4 linked regions of the Homo sapiens genome follow. The protein of the gene in region 4 interacts with the protein of the main gene of each other region in a pairwise test. Each region holds a gene or a part of one and is shown on either strand. Other genes may lie near its edges. The genes, in order: GEM, HCK, MYLK and GOPC.

Region 1 (3,605 bases), on a different chromosome or scaffold from region 4:
GCTGCATACGGCCGCTGGATAGATGCCAAGTGATTAATGTCAAGCCATATTAATGTCAGAGAGGAGAATTTGGTGAAAGCTTTGCCTGGCTAGATCTCAGGCTGGAAATCACTAGATTCCTTTATTTTATTTCCCCCTAATCCTTTATAACTTCCTCTAATGCCTTAGTCAAGCTTAAGACCATCAGCCTCCAGGGAGCAAAGTGAAGCCCATCTGTTCAGTCAGGCATTTGCCAGACCAAAGTAAAAGGTCAATCTGGCTTTTCCTATAACAGCATTGAGATGACCCCAAATACTTCCCAACGGTATCAGCCAAAAACAACTTTGCATTACCGTGAATCGTGATTTCAAAGCAGAGATGTCAGGGATATCCTTTAAAACGGATAATGACTGGGCTATTGCTAGTGAGAAAAAGAAAGAAAACAATAGGCATATGTCTCTTTGGAATGTGCTTGCTCTAAAGGCTGTATAAAAATAATCCTAATCATCTTGTTTGGGGAGGAAAATCAATCAAGAATGCCTTTTTTCAAATATTTTATTTCTTTTATTATAAGACATATAGGTAAAAACTTGCATATTTTGAAAAAGATAGAAAATGGTAATAAAATGGATATTTTTCTTATTAAGAAATATGTTCATAAATATGCTTTATCAAATGTTAAAATGGTTATTTTGCAAAATAATAATAAATAGAGCAGAGCTGTGACATACAAGGGTCAACCAAAGTACTGGAAGTTTTTATGCTATATGTTTTATAAAAATTCAGACTTCTGATTATACATTAAAAATTGACATTTTGCACTACAGGGTATCAATAATTCTGATTTTAAAAATATTTTTATGATGGCTCCATGAATTCAAAAATAATAAAACATAAAAGGTGGTTTGACTAAATAGAATCTGATTCAAATAATTTCCCCCTAAATAAGAAATTGTAAGATATAATTTTTGAGCCTATAAGGGACACATGTATCAGTTCCCAATTCTATATGTCTTGGTGGGCATTGAACAAAAATTGTTTGCTAAGCCTTTGTTTCCAGCAAGGTCCACATCATTTCTTTTCACAGTTTGATGGAGCAATAATAGTCACGATTCTGATGAGCCTAGTTCTACAATTCTAGCTCCATGGATCTTAGATTCGTAGAAAGTTTTCCCTCCTTTGAAGAAACTCATTGACAGCTTTCTTATATTTGTTTATGACTCATTGGCCTCAAAGTCACATATCAGAACACTGGGAAAAATTTTTAATGATGAAAAGTTCTTGTTCTAGGCATTCTTTGTAAGCTTTACTTCTCTACTATCCAAAATAGAAGAAACACATGTGAACACCAAACACATCCTCTAAAGAGTCTTGGGTGTTCAAATAGCAAGGTCAGGCTTTTCCTGGAAATAAATACTGACTTTTTACAAAAATCTTTCATTTCCCATGCATCATGTTGCCCACAAGGCTAATACGCTAGCTCCCTGCTACAATGGGGGAAACCACATCTAACTTAAGTATTCAATCTAATATAGATTATTGGTCCCAATGGCCTTCAACAACGGCCATCAAAGGGACATCTGGGTGACCCTGGGTTCCTAGAGTACAGAGAGGTCATGGCAGGATTTGGACTTGAGCTTGAAGGCCATATTCTTGTTGTTTTTGGCCACGATCTTGCCCCAGAAGCGCCTGGCTTTCCTGGGCATGCTCTCCTTCCTTTTCTGGTAGGCCAGCCGCCGTTCATTCTTCTCCTTGCTGTCCCGCCGAAGGCGCACCTGTCGCACAATGCCCTCAAACAGCTCCTTCACGTTGTGCTGGACAGCTGCAGAGGTCTCGATGAACTTGCAGTCAAACACCACTGCACAGGCTCTCCCTTCTGGGAAGGAAAGAAAGAGGTCAGAGGGACTGCAGAGCACAGTCCCACATAGCACACAGTCAAGCTGGATGGTTCTTCGAGGTAACACTAAGTCAGCTGTATATGCAGTGGATAGAGGATGCTGCTGCGGCATGGGCCCTCCCAGGGCATGAATAGAAAATGTCTCACTGGAGGGTCCCTGGAAGTAAGGGAGATGGGCTTTAGATCTGATCCCCCATAAATTCACTGTCTGAAGGTCCCATTTCATCAAATATAGTGATATTAGTTATAACAGTAAAAGCCATACCCTTAATTTACTGCTGACTTACAATGTGCCAAGAACAAGGCTAAGTTCTTTATAAACACTGTTTTCAATGTCCACAACAATCTTGGAAAATACATTATTATCCCTGTCAAATACATGAAGAAACCGAGGGGAGTCTCCTCTGCAGGTGAAGTTCACACAGCCTGTAAGTGGCAGTGAAGCCAGGTCTGCTCAGTTCTCAAGCCCATACTCAACTCTTTCTCCTGACCCAGTTTCCAGAATTGGAAATAAGAATTCTACTGCTTAGCTTTCCTCTCTTTTAAAATAAAAATAAAAATAAAGCAATAATGAGATATCTTGGGAAAAAATTGAGAATTTTACAAATGTGTAATACAGTTAAATTATACAAGCTTTTCTGGGACAGTCTCAATTTCAAGTATTTCATTGCATTCAATGACCATGCATCAAGTTTTGGTTTGGAAAAAAAATGATTACTGTAGACAGTTGTGTCCTAGTAGGAAGACATTCCCAAACTAGTGTGTACATTGTCTTTATCAGGTGTCTTTCCTCCTGAGCAGGGCCCGGCAATGTAGTATTTTAGTTTTATAATTGTACCAGGATCAAATCTGAATTAGGCCAGTAAAATCTCAAGGGCTATAAAAGCACTTGGCTGCCCACTCAGCAGATAGAGATTTTCCCTGAGCTAAGTATGAAGAAGAATATGTGACCCCATCAGACTGATGCCTCAAATGAAATTTCAGAAGCCAGGGATGGGGAGTAGGAGAGTAGGACAGTGTTTCTAGGGCTCACAGGAACCAGAGTCAGCCAGAGTAGAATTCTTTTTCCTCAATGAAACTCTTTCTCACAGTTCCCCTAAATCAGAGTTCCCTATCCTCCTTGCATGAAGATGCTACTTTCATTTCCCTGTACTCTTGGGAATTCCAGGAAACTCCTTAAAAGCGGGAGGATTAGTATCCTGCAGGTAGACCAGATGGACAAGGGAGAACAACTAGTGTGGAGGAGACCCACTGGGACTGTAGGAGTCTGAGAAACACACCTAAAATTTCATATAGCATCTTAATGAGTTCCTAGATCCAGCCTCGTGGAAGGAGGGAAGAACCCGTGTCTGAAGGAAAACACATGTGATCCAGCGATTGTTTCTACAGTATTGGCTCTGCTCCTCTTACCTGATACAGACACTTCTCGGCACCGCACTAAGTCACTTTTGTTGCCAACCAAAATTATGGGAATGTCCTCTGTCTGCCGGGCCCTGCGGAGCTGGATTCGCAGCTCAGATGCCTTCTCGAAGCTCGCTCGGTCTGTGATTGAGTAGACAATCAGGTATGCGTCCCCGACCTGCATGCAGTGGTCATGGAGCCATTCATTTTCCCCCTAATGAAACAATAAGATCTTCTGTGAGTTCAGTTAGGCCTGGGGAATAAAGCATCAGTTTGCAAAGAAACAATATGTGTATCCTAAAGTACACTTGCTGATAGGAAAAATAGG
Region 2 (7,038 bases), on a different chromosome or scaffold from region 4:
TTTCTCAGAGATGGCCTTGGATTGTGAATGAACACAGGTCTTCTGAGACCCCTCCCTCGGGACCCTGTGGCCATCTTGAATATGTACATTGATCACGTAAGTGAAGCATACAAGGTGCTCAACGCGCATGGATTGGAAATCACAAGACTCACAGCTGCAGATCAGTGGGTGCCCAGAGAGGTAGAGTGAGCTGCCCTACCTCACACAGTGCTGCTCTTCCCAGAACATCTTTATGCTGACCAAAACACACGAAATGTGATATAATTTTATGTCATATATGTCACACAAGATGCCCGTTTAATTTCCCAGAACTGTAATACACATTTATCTCAAAGAGAGATGCTGGTTTCAGTTTTAAATGCATGCAAGTACATTATAAATCTGTGCTTAATTATGATAATTTTTCAAATTAATGATCCAGCACTCCAAGAGTCTGAATGTGTTCCTTATTTTATTTCCAAAAGACAAACAAAGCAAAACCGCTCAAGTCTTGAGGTGGCAAATCTTTCCCAGTTCCCACCAGAAGAGGTAAATCCTTGTAAATAAAAGGAATCTTTTTTCATTTTTAAAAGTAACTCATCTAAGCCTAGGAGTTTGGGGTTTTTTTCCTTAAACCACAAATACATGTTTATTTTAACAAGATAAGTATAACTGAGTTCTAACTGCTTTAGAAGAAAATGGCAATTGTGCAGAGATGAGAAAAGCAAGCACTTCCTTATGTGGTTGTCACAGCCTGCCTTCTCAGCAAATGTGTGTGCACATTTTGAGAAAAGAAATGAAACATTTCTTCCACTTTTACAATTATGTTTTGACTCTACTTGGAGTAAATGTGTTTTGTTTAAGCATCCTTAAATTAATTCAATACAGCAGCAAAGTCTGCAAGCTCTACCTCCAAAATGTCCCCCAAACCTGTCCAATGCTTACCTCCTCTCTGCCCCCACACTACCCTGGGCCACCATCATCTCATACCTGAACAATTTTGGCAGATTTCTCACAGGGTTCCCTCCCCTGCTCCCCACTGTCCACGCCTCACTCAGCCACCGGTGGGATTATTTAAAGTGCAAATTGAATCCCATCATTCTCCTGCCAGAAACTTTCCATCATCCTTAGAATAAAATCCAAAGTCCTTACTGGCCCTACAGGATATGGTGGCCTTGTCACAACCACCCTCTTCCCTGCCCATGAGCTTCAGCTACACTCTCCTGCTTTCAGTGCCTCCAACTTCTCTCTAAGCACATGCCAGCCTCAGGGCCTTTGCATTTGCTGTTCCCTCTGCCTGGAACACTCTTCCCTCAGAGTGTCCCCTCACTGGCTCCTTTGTGTCATTTAGACCGCAGGTTCTGTATCCCTTTCTCTGACAGGCCTTCCCCAAATGCCCTGCCTAAAAGAGCCAGACCTGTTGTTCCCCACAGCATCCTCTCTTATTGTCCTCACACTTTTCATTAACTCAATTTGCCCTGTTATTTATTTGTTGGCCTGTTTATTGTCTCTGTCTCCCATTCGGCTGCAGTTGAGGTCCTGAGGGCGTGAACTTGCTTCTCTTCTTCACAGTTTAGAAAAGTGCCCAGTAAATCTTGGCTGTGTAAATGGATGAATGAATTACCAAACAACTCAGAGAGAGACAGAGAGAAAGAGAGGAGGAAGAGGAAGAGGAAGAAGACGAAGAAAGAGGAGGAGGAGGGAGGACAGAGGAGGGGGAAGGAGGAGGAGGGGAAGGAGGAGGAGGGGGAAGGAAGAGGAGGGGGAGCAGGAAGGAAGGGAGGGAGGGAGGGAGGGAAGGAGTTATAAGCAATTTATAAATTGATACCAGTAATACGGTGCCTTGACAAACTAGATTGTTTGAGCCATGTTATGTGACCTCATCTTGTTATTTAATATAAAAATGGCAATTTATCATCTGATAATACTGCAGTTTTTCTGTAGTGTTTGCTCTGAGCCTGACACTGCACTGAGTATTTCCCCACTGTAGGTCATATTATTGTCCCCATTTTGCCGATGAAGACCTGAGAGGTGGGTAGGGGCAGGAAAGTGGTCAGTGAGGTGCTGGTGGGGTGGAGGGGCCAAGGATCAGCTGAGGCTTTCTGACCTGAGAGCTGGCAGTGCCCACCCAACAGCTCTACCTGTTACATTTCTGTTATCCTCATGCCATCCTCTGAATAAACATCCATCACGCTGGTCCTTGGTACCCACGACAATGACAGCTTGTCAGCCCTGGGCCAGTGCTGTGGCACGTGGACATGGGGAAGCCCAGAGGTGGCAAGGATGGAGTGGGTTCCATGTGGGGAGGATAAGGGTGCATGGAGCTGGCAGGGGAGTTAAGACCGGGAAGGCCAGTGGGAGCCAGCCCGGGGGCAGGGGACCTGGAATGCCAGCATCAGAAGACTTCCCCGCATGAGGCTCTTGGTAACTGGGGCTCACCTCCCTTCTGTCTGCTGCAGGATGGGGTGCATGAAGTCCAAGTTCCTCCAGGTCGGAGGCAATACATTCTCAAAAACTGAAACCAGCGCCAGCCCACACTGTCCTGTGTACGTGCCGGATCCCACATCCACCATCAAGCCGGTGAGTAGGGGAGGTCCCAGTTTCCCTGGGGGCTGACGGATGCTGCCCCAACATTGCCCTAACAGCCTCCTGTCTTCCCAAGGTTGGGCAGGGTGAGCTTGGGGTGAAAGGGAGCTGACTGGCCACCAACAGTGTCCTGACTCGACTCTCCGGGACGCAGCGCCAGCCAGCATGCATAGGGGCAAAGAAGTCATCTCTCTTTCCTGCAGCCCAGGCTTGGCCCCTCAGCCTGAGCTCCACCAAACAGGTGTGAGTGAGCATCTCAGGCCTCCGGCCTGGGCAGAAGCAAAAGCAGTGCTGAGAAACGAGTGAACAGTAATGATAGCAGCTGAAGTGACAATGTAATGGTAGTATCAGCAGCATTGCAAAAATACAGTAACAATTGTCATACTAATAGTACCAACCATAATTGCGTGAGTATAAGACCAAGAGTAGCAGCAGGAACAACAGCAAGAGTTGTAAAAAGAGAAGCAGTCATGCTAGGAGAGGTATTTACCAACTTCTTTTATGTTTATACAAAGCTGACTATGAACCCAGCACTGTTGTAAGCCTTTACGGTTATTAACACCCTAATCCTCACAATAATCCTATTGTGTGACACACAAATACATTCTTCTTGAAAATAAAAACACAGGCCAGGTGCAGTGGCTCACACTTGTACTCCCAGCATTTTGGGAGGCTGAGGCAGGAGGATTACTTGAGCCCAGGAGTTCGAACTGCATGAGCTATGATCACGCCACTGCACTCCAGCCTGGGCAATACAGGGAGACCCTGTCTCTTTAAAAAAAAAAAAAAAAAAAAAAAAAAAGAGCTGCTTAGAATGCCATAGTTTAGGTGTCACTTCCCCCTTGCATGGACACTTAGATTGTTTCACATACATAACAGAGCCTTTATTTATGGAATATAAATCACTGGTGGGCCTGTGATTTCTCCAAACTTAGTCGGAAAACACTGATCTGGACCGACCCCTTCACTGTGTGTTGAGGGGAGGGGTCAAGCAGCATCCCCCGGTACATCCAAGACCGAAGGCCGAGGTCACAGCTCAAGAAACCTGGATCCTGGCTGGGCACAGTGGCTCACTCCTGTAATCCCAGCACTTTGGGAGGTCAGGAGTTCTAGACCAGCCGGGCCAACATGGTGAAACCCCATCTCTACTAAAAATACAAAATTAGCCAGGCATGGTGGCATGCGCCTGTAATCCCAGCTACTTGGGAGGCTGAGGCAGGAGAATCACTTGAACCCGAGAGGTGGAGGTTTCGGTGAGCTGAGATCACGCCACTGCACTCCAGCCTGGGTGACAGAGTGAGATTCCATCTCAAACAACAGCAACAACAAAAAATCTGGACCATTTTGTTTGCTGGCTCTGCCCCTAATGTGCCGTGTGGTGCCAGGCATGTCCCCTGCCGTATGTGGGCCTCCTCCCACGACATGCAGGGCTAGGGTAAGATGCTCTTGGGTGTCCTTCTCAACACAGACCTTCCACGGGTCCCCACACATTGGTCAGATTCATTCTCTTCTCTCATTTCTTCCCCACAGGGGCCTAATAGCCACAACAGCAACACACCAGGAATCAGGGAGGGTAAGTATCTACGAGCAGATGCAGTGGAGTCATGTGTCCTGCAGAGGACTCCGCTAGGTTCTCCCTTAGCTTGAGGCATAAATCCCAAACAGTCAAACCCCTGTCGAGAATCCCCAAAATTTCCTCTGAAGTGCTTTGCGCAGGCTATTGTGTTTCTAGAACGCTGTTTAGTAACATGAACAAAACATATTTAGCTTTAAACTTGAGAATCACACCCAGCATGGTGAGACGCCTACTTATACTTGGAACCACATATCGATGGGTGCGGAGCTGTTCCAGGTGCCGGGTGAGGGTCACCAAGGGCTGTGGATGCACTTAGACGAAACCTCACCCTCTGTGTGTCTCCCTTCCCAGCAGGCTCTGAGGACATCATCGTGGTTGCCCTGTATGATTACGAGGCCATTCACCACGAAGACCTCAGCTTCCAGAAGGGGGACCAGATGGTGGTCCTAGAGGAGTGAGTCCCCATCCCACTCCCCCTAAGACAGACCTGCCTCCTCTACTCAACTATGTGCTCTTTTGTGCTTCCATAAAGAACCTGATAGATGGGCTATCTTATCCTGGGTATAAATGTCTAATGAGAAGCTAATCACAATAGTGGAGGAAGGGTTTGCTGTCAACCTGGATGAAGGGGATTGTGCACTTACTGAGAGTGCACGTCCAGCCTGAGATGAACAGGTGACGCTTTCTCAGGGAAGCCTTTCTAGGGCTCCTGCGATTAAGCCACCGGCTTTACCTGTGGACCAGGCCCCATCGAGTCGACCTTGCATTTGGAAATCCTTGGATCTCTGAGTTTGCCACCTCGGATCTCCTACAGCCTTCACCATCATGGGTATAGTGTCCAGGATGTGCTGAAGCCCGAGAACGGGAGTGGTCATGCCTGGTCGGACTCCCAAGCCCACTCTCCCCTATTCTCAGCCCCAGCTGAACCATTCTGAGTCTCTATAGGCACAGGACCCTGCCATGGGTATAGCTAATAAGACCAAAGCTGCAAGTCCAGGGAAAAGGAGTGGAGCCAGAGACCCAGGGCTCTGGGCTGTGGACAGGGAGATTCCAGACCCTCAGATGCACAGCAGGAACTGTTGTAAGGATCCCTACCCTAATCATGGCCACATGCTGGGGCTGACATAGTCACAGCCCTGTCCTTCACCCTACTGGCTTTCTGGAGGCAGGGAGTTTTCTAGGTCAAGGCTGGGGAGCTTGAGGAGACTGGAGAATGATCCTTCTGTCCCTAACACCTTTACTCCCTCATGTCCCTCAGATCCGGGGAGTGGTGGAAGGCTCGATCCCTGGCCACCCGGAAGGAGGGCTACATCCCAAGCAACTATGTCGCCCGCGTTGACTCTCTGGAGACAGAGGAGTAAGTATCCTATTTCCTACCTTCCAGAAAGAGGCATGAGCAAAGCCAGCCTTGTTTGCAACTCAGGACGTCTGCACACACTGTACCACTGCCTGGCACATACTCTTCCCAGGGCTCTGGGCTTGGCTGGCTCCTTCTCTTCCTTCAGGTTTCATCCTTCCAGTCAGGGAAGAGAGGCTAAAGTGGGTCCCAGCTGTGACTCTGTCTTGTGGAAACCTGTTTTAATCCCTTCTGAACATGTTTTACTAGCAAAACGACCTGGTTTCTTTGGTTGGTTACACGTGCATTCTCTGCCTGCCCTGCAAGGAAGAGAGCTGGTGAGAGCGGGGACTTTGTCTGCTTCTGCATCCTCGGCACAGGCTGGCATGCAGTCAGTGCTCAATAAATATTGTTGAATGAAGCACACGGTCTTGCCAAGGAGGGTTTCTGGAGAGGTGAGACAGCTCACACCTGGCCAGTCGTCCCTCATTTGTTGTTTTGTTTTGTTTTGAGACAGGGTCTCACTCTGTTGCCCAGGCTGGAATGCAGTAGCACCATCACAGCTCACTTCAGCCTCAGCCTCCCTGGGCTCAGTTGATCCTCCCACCTCAGCCTCCCAAGTAGCTGGGACTACAAGTGCGCATCACCATGCCCAGCTAATTTTTTTCTTTTTTGTATTTTTGGTAGAGAGGGGGTCTCTCTGTGTTGCCCAGGCTGGTCTCAAACTCCTGGGCTCAAGTGATCTTCTCGCCTCAGCCTCCCAAAATGCTGGGATTATAGGCCTGAACCACTGCACCTGGCCCATCCCTCATTTGATTCATTCGACAAGCACATGCTCATGACTCTTCAAGCCCTGTGCCAGCCTAAGGGGCTGTGGAAACAAATAAGATATATCCCTACCCTCAAGGAGCTCTCCATAACCCATCGTTCTTGGCTGTGGGTTCTTCTTGTGTCTAGCTTGACTCTAAAAATATACTTCAGTCATCCATCCATCCATCCATCCATTCATCCATCCATCCATCCATCCATCCATCCATCCATCATCCAACAGATACCTGTTGATTCCCTATTCCAGGGTTAGAAGATGACTTAGATGGGGCTCCCTGCTGGAGATGTTCTCTGTATGGTGGATGAGGTTGATGAGTAAAAAGATGACTACATTGTGGGGTGGCAATACATCCCATTAAAAACCAGCCAATCAAAAGTTGACAAATGACAGTCCCCATTGTTTTGTCTCTTCTGCCTCCTCTTTCTAGCTAGATGGTATTATGGGTTTGGGATGCTTGCCTGTTAAAAATGAAAACGCTTAGGCTTTTCCCATTATAAAGCCACCTCCTTCTGGCTGGGCATGGTGGCTCACACCTGTAATCCCAGCACTTCGGGAGGCCAAGGCACGCAGATCACCTGAGGTCAGGAGTTCGAGACCAGCCTGACCAACAAGGTGTAACCCCATCTCTACTAAAAATACAAAAAAAATTAGCTGGGTGTGGTGGTGCGTGCCTGTAGTCCCAGCTACTCGGGAGGCTGAGGCAGGAGAATCACTTGACTCCAGGGGGCAGAG
Region 3 (7,038 bases), on a different chromosome or scaffold from region 4:
TGTGATCCCTGGAATCCGTGCTTGTGATGAGTAATATTTGTGAGTAACCAGATGATCATTCTATTCTCCCCTCTCCTCACCCACCCTACCCCCACCCTCACCACCACACAGGTCATTTGTGAGAGAAACAAAAGCCACCAATTCAGATGTCAGGAAAGAGGTGACCAATGTAATCTCAAAGGAGTCGAAGCTGGACAGTCTGGAGGCTGCAGCCAAAAGCAAGAACTGCTCCAGCCCCCAGAGAGGTGGCTCCCCACCCTGGGCTGCAAACAGCCAGCCTCAGCCCCCAAGGGAGTCCAAGCTGGAGTCATGCAAGGACTCGCCCAGAACGGCCCCGCAGACCCCGGTCCTTCAGAAGACTTCCAGCTCCATCACCCTGCAGGCCGCAAGAGTTCAGCCGGAACCAAGAGCACCAGGCCTGGGGGTCCTATCACCTTCTGGAGAAGAGAGGAAGAGGCCAGCTCCTCCCCGTCCAGCCACCTTCCCCACCAGGCAGCCTGGCCTGGGGAGCCAAGATGTTGTGAGCAAGGCTGCTAACAGGAGAATCCCCATGGAGGGCCAGAGGGATTCAGCATTCCCCAAATTTGAGAGCAAGCCCCAAAGCCAGGAGGTCAAGGAAAATCAAACTGTCAAGTTCAGATGTGAAGGTGAGTAGAGGTAATTAGGGTCACCGATTGCCAAAATGTAGCCCCTTGGTGGCCACTCCCTTCCTTCAGCACCCAGCTAGTCTGCATCACCTATATCCACTCATCTTCTTGGACTAGCTCCCCTAGAAAACCACCTTACAAGGGCCTTCCCCTTAGGAGTGACTCATTGTAGAAATGCCCTTTATTCTGGAGAGACCCCTAACAGTAGCCTGTTGTTTGCTCTTGGATAGAGTACTGGCCCTGGCCCTAGTTCTTACCACCCTAGAAGAAACACCCTCATTATCGCCAACATCGAAAAGCAAACCTCATGGTCTCCTCCGCCCTTTCTTCCCCTTGCCTGGCTTTGGCCAACCTGGAGACCTTGCCCATCACGCTGTATTCATCCTCCTCAAGGCCCCTGACTCTCTCAAGAGGTTTCGTCTTGTGGAGTGTGGTTGAGGGTGAGGAAGCAGACTCAGAGGTGGGAGGGCAGCTCCACACCAAACTGAGCCCTTTCCTCCAGCTCACACCTTCCCCACCTACCTCACAATCACAGGGTGCTCTCCAGGGCATAGGGAGCTCACGTTCTTTACCTGGCCCTGTAGTTTCCGGGATTCCAAAGCCTGAAGTGGCCTGGTTCCTGGAAGGCACCCCCGTGAGGAGACAGGAAGGCAGCATTGAGGTTTATGAAGATGCTGGCTCCCATTACCTCTGCCTGCTGAAAGCCCGGACCAGGGACAGTGGGACATACAGCTGCACTGCTTCCAACGCCCAAGGCCAGCTGTCCTGTAGCTGGACCCTCCAAGTGGAAAGTGAGTACACTTCTCCAGGTCACCCCGCATTCTCTGTGGGACAACCATTCATGGGGTGCTTCACCTTCTGCAGATGGTTCATCTCCTATAGCCCCCTGCCTTGGTGCACAGCCCGACAGAAATGTCACCCCCAATCACATGCCAAGGCCAAGTGTGTTGCTCTAGGCCAGTGATTCATAATCAGGAGTTCACATCAGAATCACCTCAAAATAAACATGCATGGCCCCACACCCAGCCCAACTGACAGCTACCTTTCCTAGGTCCCTCAGCTGTTTGAATAGTGCCGTGACTCACGTTTGTAACCACAGAGAACTGAGTGTTCATTAAATATACAGGTTTAGAGTAATGTGAGATGATGTGGGATCCCACATCTTTTATGTTTATTGTACTGTCTGTTTATAAAAGTAATGCATGTTCATTGTGGGGAATTTAAACAATATATAACCTTATGACTCAGAAATAAATTATATTTTAATGTTTTTTATACAAACTTACCATTGTGGTATTTGTATACTGCTTTCTATCCTAATTTGCTCATGTGATATTAACATCTTTTTATACAATTCTTGGAAAGCATGACTTTTAGTAGCCATATAATATTGCATGAAATGGCTGTATCTAATTTAGGTATGCTGTTATTTGTTGAATAATTAAATTGTTTCCATTTTTCACTATTATAACATACCTATGATAAATATTCTTGTACCTGTCTATCTCTATAAAATTTCCCCCTTACTCTAAATGCATATGTAAGCCCCAGGCCCATGCCATACCCTTGAGAAATGCATTAACAAATACCACAAGAGTAGAATCTGCAAATTGCAGGCTGCTGGAAACTGTGGAACAAATAACTTTCACCCATTTTTTTTCCACATACAAATTGCAAGCAAAAAAAAAAAAAAAAAGACAACCTATAGAAAACTTATATTAGAAGGTATATAGTAACATCAACAATTACAATAATTTTTGATAATCTTCTGCCAATCCTGACTGAGATAATCTTTAAAAAGTTTTTATGGGAACATCAAGAGAATTTGGACACTGATAAGATTTAATATAAAGGAATTCGTGGTGTTTTAAGATGTGATGGTGGTCTTGTTACTTTTTTTTTTATAAGTTCATCTGTTTGAGAGATATATCCTGAGTTATTTACTGGTGAAATGATATGGCTTTTTATATTTGACTTAGAAATAATTCATGTTTGGGGAGCACTGGCAGGGATATCAATGAAATAATATTGATATAAATGAAAGTTGAGAGATGGGTACATAGGAATTCACTACACTGCTTTGTCTACTTTTGTGTGTGTTTGAAAATTTTCAAAATGCACATTTCCAAAAGAAAAAAAGAGTTAGTGATGTATCCATATAGTAGAATGCCAGACAACATCCTGTAGACTGATGCTAAAACATGTTCAAGATGCACTAGGAAGGGAGAGGAGCAAAGTACAGGCTCATGTGTAAATGGAAGAAAAGATCTGTGTACACACATGCAAAAGATGCCTGTGTGTGCACAAATCATTTCTGGAAGAGCACAAAAGTCCCTCTAGGAAGGGGAAACTAGGGGTTCACAGGAAGGAATGGGGCATCTTACTTTTCACTGTATACTGTTGATTCACTGGGATTTTAACTGTTGTTTAACTGGGATTTTTACTATCCTCGTGAATTCCTTTACAAGAAATATTATCCATGCCATTTGCAGGTGGGAGTGCTGGTAGGCAGAGTTCACAGGTCTAGGAGATCAAGCCTCATCATCCAGGCCAGGTCTCTATCCCTGCGCAGGGGACAGAAATATGGTGTCAGGTCCACCACAGATTAATGGCGTATCCAGAGGGCCTAGATTCTCCTGTGGCTTCTTCTGCTGTGAATTCATCTAAGTCTCACAGAAGACTATTTTTAGCCTGTTCGCGTCATGGGGTAATACATCTCAGGTTGATTCCCTATCTTGTTGTGTTTTGTGTGACAGCTTTATTGAGATATAATTCACATAACATAAAAAGCACCCTTTTAAAGTACACAATTCAGTGGTTTTTAATATATTCACAGAGTTGTGTGGCCATCACCATCATCTGATTTCAGAACATTTTCACTACCCCTCCCAAAAAAATCCTACCCATTAGCTGTCACTCCCTGTTCTCCCATCCCCACAACCCCTGATAGCCACTAATATACTTTTTGTCTCTATGGGTTTTCCTCTTCTGAACATTTGATGTTAAATGGAATCATTCAATATGTGGCCTTTTGTGTCTGGCTTCTTTCTCTTAGCTTAATGTTTTCAGGGTTCATCTGTGTTGTAGCAGGTGTTAGTACTTCATTCATCCATGTGGCTGAATCATATTGCATTGTATGGGTATAGCATACAGTGTTTTGTTTATCCACGCATCACTTAAGGTCCATGTGGTTGTTTCTACTTTTTAGCTATGGTGAAAAGTGTTGCTATGCACATTTATGTATGAGTTGTTTTCAATACCTGTTTTCAATTTTGATGTTTAGACCACATATATTGTTGGGTCATAAGGTAATTCTGGATTTAACCCTCTGAGGAACTAACAAACTGTTTTTCACCATTTTACATTCTTCTAGCAATGTACAAGTGTTGCAGTTTTTCCACATTCTCACCAATACTTGTTATTTTCTTGCTTGCTTGCTTGGTTTCTTGCTTTTTTTAAAAAATGAGGTCTTGCTTTGCCAATGGGGCTAGAGTGCAGTGGCATGATAATAGCTCACTGTAACCTTGAACTCCTGGGCTCAAGCAATCCTCCTGCCTCGCCTCCTGAGTAGGTGGGACTAAAGGTGCTTGCCACCACACTCGGCTAATTTTTTTTATTATTTGTAGAGATGGAGGTCTCACTATGTTGCCCAGGCTGGTCTCAAACCCCTAGACTTGAGTGATCCTCCCACTTCAACCTCCCAAAGCACTGGGATTATAAGCATGAGCCACTGCACTCAGCCTGTTTTCTATTTTTTCATTATAGCCATTCACAATCATCTGACTATGATTTTTTTTTTTTTTTTGAAACAGGGTCTCACTCTGTTGCCCAGGCTGGAGTGCAGTGGCGTGATAATAGCTCATTGCTGCCTCAACATCCCAGCCTCAAGTGATCCTTCCCACCTCAGCCTCCTGGGTAGCTGGGACCACAGGCATATGCCACTATACCCAGCTAATTTTGTTTATTTTTGTAGATAAAAGGTCTTACTATGTTGCCCAGGCTGGACTTGAACTCCTTGCTCAAACAGTCCTCCCACTTTAGCCTCCTAAAGTGCTGGGTTTACAGGCATGAGCTGCCACACCCAGCCTGACTGCAATTTTGATTTGCATTTCTCTGATGACTAGTGATTTTGAGCATCATTTCATATACTTATTGGACATTTGTATATCTCCTTCAGAGAAATGCCTATTCAAATACTTTACCCATGTTTTAATTGCATCATTTACTTTTTTATTGTTGAGTTGCAAGAGTTCTTTATGTATTCTGGATACAAGTCATTTACCAGACATGATTTACAATAATCCTCTCCCATTCTGTAAAGGCTGGATTATTTGTCATGTGCGGCCACAGAAGTCCCTGCTTAGTTAGTTTAGTGATCACCTAATTGATTGGATGGAGAGTTCCTTAAATGCCTTGAACTAATACTTTTCCCAGCCTTTGCCAAGGGGCTCTGTGTGTGTGTTACGCCCATCTTCAGTGCTCCGGCCAGCAGTTTACAGCTCTGCTTTAGCCTTTACTTTCTGCTTGCACCAAAGCTCCAAGTCAGCCAGAGGTGAGACAGGAGGGCCTTCTTACATCTTTCCTGGGCAGGCTCACAGCCCTGCACAACCATTTGGGCTCCTCAGTTCTCAGGAATCTGTCAGAGCTTTTCAAAGTCCTGGACATCTCATTCCCCAGTTTTTCCTTTGAAGTTTTTTGGTCAGGCTCTTGTTAGCTCCGAATGATATTGCTGTCTCAAGTAGCTATAATGTTAAACAATTGCTACTGATTGATTTTAACAAACATCCTGGAGACAGGGCCATCCACACAGAGTAAACTTTGAGTCGGATTAAACAAAGACAACCCGGAAAATGGAGTCGTTGAAGGAGCTGCCAGACAGGGCAAATAGTGACCATTCTCTTACGCATGGGGTTTTTCAGGAGCTCTGAACCCATCCTGCCCCTTGCTAAGTGGCTGATTTTCACAAGTACCATAGGTACTGTCGGTTTTCAGAGTTACCCCAGAGCTGGGGCAAGGGGCACAAGAGTGAAAAAGCACATAGCTTGCTGTTCTTACCAAGATTCAGCTATGTTTTATTGTTGTTGTTGTTGTTGTTGTTGTTGTTTGTTGTTTGGGAGGGTGGAGGGGCAGGGTATTGTTGTTTGGGGTTTTTTGTTGTTGTTTATTGTTTTTACTTTTTAGAGACAGAGTCTCGCTCTGTCACCCAGACTGGAGTGCAATGGCGTGATCATAGCTTGCTACAGCCTCAAACTCTTGGGCTCAAGCAATCCTCCTGCCTCAGCCTACTAAGTGAGACTACAGGCACATGCCATCATGCCTGGCTAATATTTTAATTTTATTTTTTTTGGTAGAGACAAGAGTCTTGCTATGTTTCCCAGGCTGGTTTCAAACTTCTGGCTCAAGCAGTCCTTCTGCCTTGGCCTACCAAAGTGCTGAGATTAAAGACTTGAGCCACCACTCCTGGATGTTTGTTTGTTTTTATTGAATGCTCCTCAGAATGTTGCAAGCCTGTGGTTAATTTCTGGCATTCTGAAACCGTTGCTTTTGACTCTTTTTGCCAGTATTGTTGTTGCTTTTATGGAGGAGTAGATCTTCAGAGGTCTTTACTTTGCCATTCCACATCCTATCTTCTTGATGAAGACACTCGCTTTTCTAAAACTTCTCCAGTTCCTAAACATCCTAGCTAATTCTTGGCAGATGAGTTTACCATGAAGCAGGTCATCTGATGGGTGTTCTTTTAGCTCCTCCTACATACTTCTCTCTTTCTGTTTTCCTATACTACAGAATACCTGTCTGTTTCCCTTCCCAAGACTTCTCTTTCTGTCCCTTCCCATCTTCACAAGGATCTGATCTAACAATGATTTACTCTCTCACCACTTCTTCAATCTTTCCCCTTCCCTTATTGAGAGACCTCTTTTTTCTCCCTACAAGCATGCTGTAGTTGTCCCTATGCTGAAAAAGGAAAGAAAATCTTCCTTCCACTTGAGAGCCCCTGCAGCTCCTACTCTATCCCTCCACTCTCTTTCATCCCTAGACTATATTTGCCTCAAGTAGAGTCTCTATGCACAGCTTCTACTTGATAATAACAGCTAACACTCACTGAGGATGTGCTATGCTGGGTTTTGTGCTAAATGCTCTACCTGAATTGTTTCATTTAGTTATCCCAACAATCTTACAAGAAAATCATACCCATTTCCTAGATAAGAATACTGATCTTTAGTAAGGTTAAATGACTTGTCCAAGTTCACATGCCTTGTAAAAGAGAGCATATTTCTAACCCAAACTGACCTGGCATGAAAGCCTATATCCTTTTTTGATAACTCCCAAAGGCATTTCTCTAATGAGGGAGTTCAACACTGGCCAAGGGGAGGGATGGAGAGGGTGCCTCCCC
Region 4 (7,038 bases):
TTTTGCATTTGCACATGATCAGTATTTTAAAACTGGAAGAGGCTTGTGATTCATTTATCTGCTGAGTAGGAAAACAGCTTAGTAGAGACAGAAAGAGTAAGGGTACCAGAGAAAAGATTATTAGTGGATCAAGGCCCTTTATTTAAGAGGTAGACTCCAGAGCACCAAGGAATGTATAAGTAATTAATGGTCCAATTGGAAATTTGTTTTTCAACTCTACAACTCAGCTAAAATGAATGTATATCTTAAAGATATCCAGTGAAGATAGACACTTTTATTTTTTGAGGATATTTGTTCCTCAATTAATTCCTGGAAATCATTTCTTTTATAATGCCCTACAATTTAAAAAGAGATGTATCAATATTTTAAACATTATTGGCAAAAGGGTGAGAATATCATCTATAAATTTTGCATCAACAGAATAGCTATTTTCATTTTTCCATTTTATCTGTTACTTTCTTAACCCTATACTGTTTATCCATTCCAGGAAGTTAATACAGATTTCTAAAAGCAAGTTATATAGTATGAGTTTACTCTATTTGGTATGCTATTTAAATGATACTACTTTTTCTTCTTTTTTCCTCCCAATAAGGATCAAGATTCCCTAAAGAAAAGCCAAGGTGTTGGTCCAATTAGAAAAGTTCTCCTCCTTAAGGAAGATCATGAAGGCCTTGGCATTTCAATTACAGTAAGAAGTAGTACTTCCAGTATCATTTTCTACAGTTATCTAGTATAATCATGCTCCTTTGTTGGACATCACTGGGGAACAGAATATTCTGGATATATTTTTTAAATAACTAAAATTTATCCCCATGGGGATAAATGTTTGCTTTTGTGTAAATATTTTTTTAAGAAATAAATATTCCTAGCAACTATTAAGTGTACCTTTAGTAAGCATAGTTTAACATTTTTATTATGATTCACTTAATAGTTCTGTGCCATATACTGTGATGCCTCTAGGAGCCCTTGGGAATAGACGTGGCTGTTTTCTTCTATGTTAAATGGCTTCAGATTGTATTGTTCTCTCTCGGAGTACGTGTATCTTTCTCTTGCCTCATTTATTAGCTGTCAGATTTCACTGGCTCTTGGGTCCAAATGTTATATATTCTTTTTTTTAAATTCGATGCCTTTAGGAGTCATTTTGTTGTCATCTCAGTGCTTTAATGAATAAGGTGGCTTTAATTTTCATTTGGTAATACTTAGGCACTGAGCAAGATCATTTGTTTTTTTAGTATTGCTTAATGTAGAAATGTTTCTTATAATAAAAAGCTCATCTAATCTATATTTCTTGAATACTTACCTTTTTTTTTTTTATGTGCTGCCTTCAAAGAGCATACATTTTAGCAGGACAAATAAGACACACACACACACCCCTACACACACGCAACAATGATATAAGCTAGAGAGTGATAGGTACCAAATACTGCATTTTTTCAATTCTACATTGCATATATTTTCATATTTTAACTTCTCTGAAATTGAAATTTATCTTATAATCTTAAAATTATTTTTGTGGCACCTAAAATAATTGGTCTTGTCATTCGTAGTGATTTAGACTTGATAAAATGTAATGGTGCTATGGAGTACTAACACATAAGTTTTTTTTAATTTAAGAATTTAGCCAATTTCTGTTCAATACTCTGATAATTTTTACCATTACTTAAGTAGCAAATAAAATTTTACCCAGCATTTATAGAGACAGCATAGGTGTTTAATGAAATATATTTTTAAGAAAATATTTTATCTCTAGATTAATCGGTAACTGTACCTTACAAAGAGTACTTTAATTTACTGCCCTTTGTTGTTGTTAGGGTGGGAAAGAACATGGTGTTCCAATCCTCATCTCTGAGATCCATCCGGGGCAACCTGCTGATAGATGCGGAGGGCTGCACGTTGGGGATGCTATTTTGGCAGTCAACGGAGTTAACCTAAGGGACACAAAGCATAAAGAAGCTGTAACTATTCTTTCTCAGCAGGTAAATTCCCTTCATGTAATTAGAACTGGATCTATCAATTGGTTATGAATCTATTGAACACTGTATACTTCCCTACGAAGTTTCTAAAGTAGTAAAGTGTTTACACATAGTTCTTGTTTCCTTTGATTTAATGCTTTTATAGCTGACATTCAGTCAGATTTACTGAAAATGGACCATTCCATTTTGTTTACTTCATAACTTTGAGCAAGTTACTTAAGTCCTCTGTCCCTCAGTGTCCTCACCTGTGTGGGAGGGATTGAAAGAAAGCTGTGAGGATTAAGTATGTTAATACATATAAAGTACTCAGAACAGGACCTGAGACTGAAAAAACAACATCCTTAATGCCTAGAACACTATATATAAGGTATTACAGAAAAGACAGTGCTAGAAGTAGATTGATTTTAGTCATGGAATATTAAAATTGAAATCACACATAGAAACTATCTAGCCCAACTCTCTTAAAATGAGTAAACTAAAGTTCTTAGCGATGAAAGGATTTACTCAAAGTTGCCAAGCAAATAAATTATAGAATTGAGATTCATACTCAGGAGTCATATTTGTCATACAGTTGTACTTAAAATGTTGTTTTATTTTATTTCTTTCAAGAATAGAGTTGAGGGAATTAGAGGCATTGGTAGTACATTGAGATGTTTCTTGGATTATCAGTGTGGTATGCCTCTGTAGAATTGCATCTCAGAGTTGAAAGTGAATATTGTTCATTGGTTCAATTCTATATGATGCATAAATCTTTGCAACATCACTACTTCAATAATTACATTACAGGGAAGACTTGCTGATATCAACCAGTCCATTCCATTGTAATACAGTACTGATTTTTAGAAAGCTTTTTCTCATATTAAGCCTGAAATCTGTGTCTCCATGACAGCTACTCACAGATCTAATTCTGTCATCTAAAACTTTGCTGAAGACCACTGCATCATCTGTCTCTTTCTGCAAAATGGTATTTTTAAAGCATTAGCTGACAAGAGAGATCTAAGAATGCTACGCTATTCTCTTAAGTTAGTGTTTTATCAATCCATCTTGACTGTCATCCAGTAGCAAAAGAGTGGGATAACTGGTGAAGGAGCTATCAATGGGCAGCCATAAGTTTTAAGGAAATGCTAACTAAGCACATATTAAAATTCTGAGGTATAACCTTAAACTGCTGGGAAAGAAGAGCACCAAAGAGACTAACTTAGTGAGTAGCAGTCAAAAATGCCGTGTTTTCTTTTGAGCAAAGGCAAGCCATAGTTTTCAGAATTGCCAACACCACACTTATATGTAGTGGTTGGAGTCTCTTATTAAATGACAATTATAGCTTGGAAATTTTTCTTTTAACATAAAACGATCTGTAACATTTTTTTCTTTTTTGGAGCCAGGATCTCACTTTGTCACCCAGGCTGGAGTGCAGTGGCACAATTACGGACCACTGCAGCCTCAACCTCCCAGGCTCAAACAGATCCTCCGACCTCAGCCCCCTGAGTAGCTAAGACTACAGATGCCTGCCACCATGGCCAGCTAATTTTTTTTTTTTTTTTTTTTTTTGTAGAGATGGGTTTTGCCATGTTGCCCAGGCTGGTCTAGAATTCCTGAGCTCAAGCGATCCACCTGCCTCAGCCTCCCAAAGTGCTGGGATTACAGGTGTAAGCCACTGTGCCTGGCATGATCTGTAACTTTTTACTTGAATGTTTCATTGTTAAAGAATGACAGTACAAATATTACACAGTTAGTCTAGCATAATATAAAGATTAAGGACTTCAGAGTCAAACTTTTGTTTTTCTTTATTCTTGTTCATTATGTAGGGAAAGTTATCTGCTTTCTGCAGGACTCACTCAGCTTTCTCGTTCATGTAAAAGAGACTATAATAGGATTATTCTGGGGATTGAAGGCTATAATTTATAGTAAATATATAAATATAGTAATTACTATTAGTACGAGACAGAATACCTTGATTAACACTATGTCTGTGTCTGGTACTCAGTGTAAGTTCTTACTCAAGACCTATTGAATAAGAAACAAAAAATCATTTTGTAGGAGTTTCTTGAATTAGTTAAGAAAAGATTTATATGATGTCCTTATGGCAGTGTACAAAAATCATTTTCTAGGGGTTTCTTGAATTAGTTAAGGAAAGGTTTGTATGATATCCTTATTTAATATCTGACTATTTAGATGTATTTGCTGAATTGCTGTGTGCAGTACAAAGTAGCAAATAACTTTAAAACTGAATACTTGTTCCAAAATTCTATAAATTTAATAATTAAGCATCCTCTTAAATTTTAGATCTATTAGCAAAAAGACTATGGTCAGTAGAAAGAGCTACTATAATGTTTAAAGGAACTGTAGAGAGGATTCACGAGGCTGATCAGACATGATGGCCTCACTACCTCTTTAGATTCTAGAATTTTATTATTTATTTTCTGGAAATCAGCTATCTCTTAGATCTCTCTACCCCTAAGCCTTCCCACAAAGAATTTGGAAATCCTTTTTAAATTACAATTACAATAACTTGACTTTCTCATTTTCATTTCCTGTTTTAGAGAGGAGAGATTGAATTTGAAGTAGTTTATGTGGCTCCTGAAGTGGATTCTGATGATGAAAACGTAGAGTATGAAGATGAGAGTGGACATCGTTACCGTTTGTACCTTGATGAGTTAGAAGGAGGTGGTAACCCTGGTGCTAGTTGCAAAGACACAAGTGGGGAAATCAAAGTATTACAAGGTAAAAATCACTCTAAAAATTATTATTAACATATTCATTATTATTAAATGTTTAAAATGTGAAGGCCTCAGAATTTCTTCAGTAAAACTGTTTTGTGAGGAAATCAAAGGAATGAAGAGCTTTCCCTTGTTTATTGTTTTATTGTATACTATGCTAACAGTTTATTTACCATATATGTTCTTCTATATTCATCTTGGACTGTTAAGACAAGTACATTACCAGTTACTCTACTGCAAGTGATCCTTGAAAAATAAATAAAATTTTTTCTAGACTCTGAAACAAAGACCAATATACTATTTTGAGTAGATCTATCTTGTAGACTACATTGTCTGTCTGTCTTGATGCAAATTCATCTCTCACAATGAATTTTAAGCTAATTATGAATAAGTATGAAGTATACTGTCACCTTATGATTGCTATTAGAATCAACTTATATTATCTTGGGGATGTTTGGTTTAGTTCCTTTGCTATCATTTAGACATATTTTAAGGAAAAACTCTAGCACTTCCTTTTACATAGAGCAGTGGTCCTCAAATTGTGATCTGTGGATCTCTGAGGGTCTCTGAGATATTTTAGCAGAGTTCATGAGGTCAAAGCTTTTCATAATAATACTAAGACATCATTTGTCTTTTTTTGCTATGTTGATATTTGCACTGATGGTATCTGGTTGATGCAAAAGCAATTGGGGTAAAACTGCTGGTGCCTTAGCACTAATCAAGGCAGTGTTGCTAATACTAGTAACTGTACTAGTAATCATTGTTTTCTTCCTTGCCATCCATTCATAGTAAAAGAAGAAGATACCAATTTTGCTTAAAAATATCTTTGATGAAATGGCAGTAACAGTTAATTTTTAAATATTGACCTTTGAGTACCTGTCTTTTTAATATTCTTTGTGATGAGATGGGAAGTATGCATAAAGCACTTACTCTGCACACTGAACAAAGATGCTGGTTTCAAGGGAAAGTACATAAGTGACTGAACTAGCCATTTTTCTTCATGGAAGACAATTTTTACTTGAATGAATGACTAACAAAGTATGGATTTTCGGACTATTTGGAAGCCATTTTCTTAAAAATGAACAAAGTCCATCACTTCAGGAAAGACAACTGATAATATTTATTGCCAGTGATAAAATGTGAGCTCTCAAGTGAAAGTTAGAACTTTGTAAAACATACGTTGATCACCATGAGCTTGACAGCTTCCTAACACTTAAGCTTTTCTGATGAGATTGATGATGATATTAATGAATGTGATTTTTTGATACAGTAAAGTGAAATGTGTCAACTTTTGGAATTGCTACATAACTTCATGGTCCAATATTTTTCAAATCACCAGTAAATGAAGTTATAAAATTTTGCATGGGAAAAGATCCATTCAAAATGCAAGATAGGCAAATGGATTTTAATATAACAGAGTGTGAAAAGTTCACTGATAAGGTTTCAAATTCCACATTGTCAAATTTTTGTATAATATCAGAGAACAATACTGACAGTTATCTGAAAAGGCTGTTAAAATACTCTTCCATTTAGCAACTACATATCTGTGTGAGGCTGAACTTTCTTCATATACTTGTAATAGATTGAATGGAAGCAGATATATGAAAATACAGCTATCATCTACAAAGCCATTGAAGAGATTTGTAAAATTGTAAAATAATGCTACTCTTCTAACTAGAATTTTTTTGTTTGGAACATAGAGTTATTTGTCATTAGACAAATGTTATTTATATTAACCTTCTGGATTTATTGTCATTTTTAACAAAGAAATGAATTTTTTTTTAGATTTTTCAATTTTACCTACTAATATGGGAAACATCAGTAGCTATAATCCACATAAACAGAAGCTTCTTGGAGTCCTCAATGCTTAGTATAAAGGCCTCCTGAGACCAAAATGTTGAACTCCTGGCATGGAGTTTTATGGTGAACTGATAAACTGTTGCACTTTTGATAAACTTGTGTGTTGTAAACTGTCTGCACAAAGATAGCAGTAGCAGTTACTGTTTTCACTGTGCATCTTGAGCAAAACTATTGTGGCAGTATGTCAAAACCTTAATTGTTGGGCTGCTCTCCATATGGTTTCATTGTATTTCACACTTGCTGTTTTCTGTCGGGATTAGAAAGCCTGTCTCTTCCTTTTTTTTGTAACTGAGGCTAGAAGTCTTCTCTGTCACATATGCAAATTGCAGACACTTAAAATGTGACTCAACTAAAAATTTGTGTGTATATATCTTTTAACTGACTCACTTAAAAAAATGTATCTATTGGTTATTGTTTCACACGTCTATACTTTATAGATATATATATCACCTAAATAGGTGATATAGTCAACACTTATTTATTTATAA

What was found.
Region 1: the proteins of GOPC (region 4) and GEM interact in binary tests that used the Homo sapiens proteins (3 or more experiments, as listed by UniProt).
Region 2: the proteins of GOPC (region 4) and HCK interact in binary tests that used the Homo sapiens proteins (3 or more experiments, as listed by UniProt).
Region 3: the proteins of GOPC (region 4) and MYLK interact in binary tests that used the Homo sapiens proteins (3 or more experiments, as listed by UniProt).

Annotation. Positions count from the first base shown.
Region 1 is NC_000008.11:94,248,733-94,252,337, forward strand, and holds the end of GEM (GTP-binding protein GEM), read right to left. Parts: intron 3,492-3,605; coding exon 3,287-3,491; intron 2,034-3,286; coding exon of another isoform or gene 2,020-2,033; exon of another isoform or gene 1,856-2,019; coding exon 1,578-1,855; 3' UTR 521-1,577; downstream 1-520. UniProt on the Homo sapiens protein: Could be a regulatory protein, possibly participating in receptor-mediated signal transduction at the plasma membrane. Has guanine nucleotide-binding activity but undetectable intrinsic GTPase activity.
Region 2 is NC_000020.11:32,069,224-32,076,261, forward strand, and holds part of HCK (tyrosine-protein kinase HCK), read left to right. Parts: intron 1-464; exon of another isoform or gene 465-528; intron 529-2,438; coding exon 2,439-2,559; intron 2,560-4,095; coding exon 4,096-4,138; intron 4,139-4,492; coding exon 4,493-4,595; intron 4,596-5,399; coding exon 5,400-5,498; intron 5,499-7,038. UniProt on the Homo sapiens protein: Non-receptor tyrosine-protein kinase found in hematopoietic cells that transmits signals from cell surface receptors and plays an important role in the regulation of innate immune responses, including neutrophil, monocyte, macrophage and mast cell functions, phagocytosis, cell survival and proliferation, cell adhesion and migration.
Region 3 is NC_000003.12:123,727,296-123,734,333, reverse strand, and holds part of MYLK (myosin light chain kinase, smooth muscle), read left to right. Parts: intron 1-111; coding exon 112-647; intron 648-1,231; coding exon 1,232-1,438; intron 1,439-7,038. UniProt on the Homo sapiens protein: Calcium/calmodulin-dependent myosin light chain kinase implicated in smooth muscle contraction via phosphorylation of myosin light chains (MLC). Also regulates actin-myosin interaction through a non-kinase activity.
Region 4 is NC_000006.12:117,564,510-117,571,547, reverse strand, and holds part of GOPC (Golgi-associated PDZ and coiled-coil motif-containing protein), read left to right. Parts: intron 1-592; coding exon 593-688; intron 689-1,689; exon of another isoform or gene 1,690-1,811; coding exon 1,812-1,976; intron 1,977-4,513; coding exon 4,514-4,694; intron 4,695-7,038.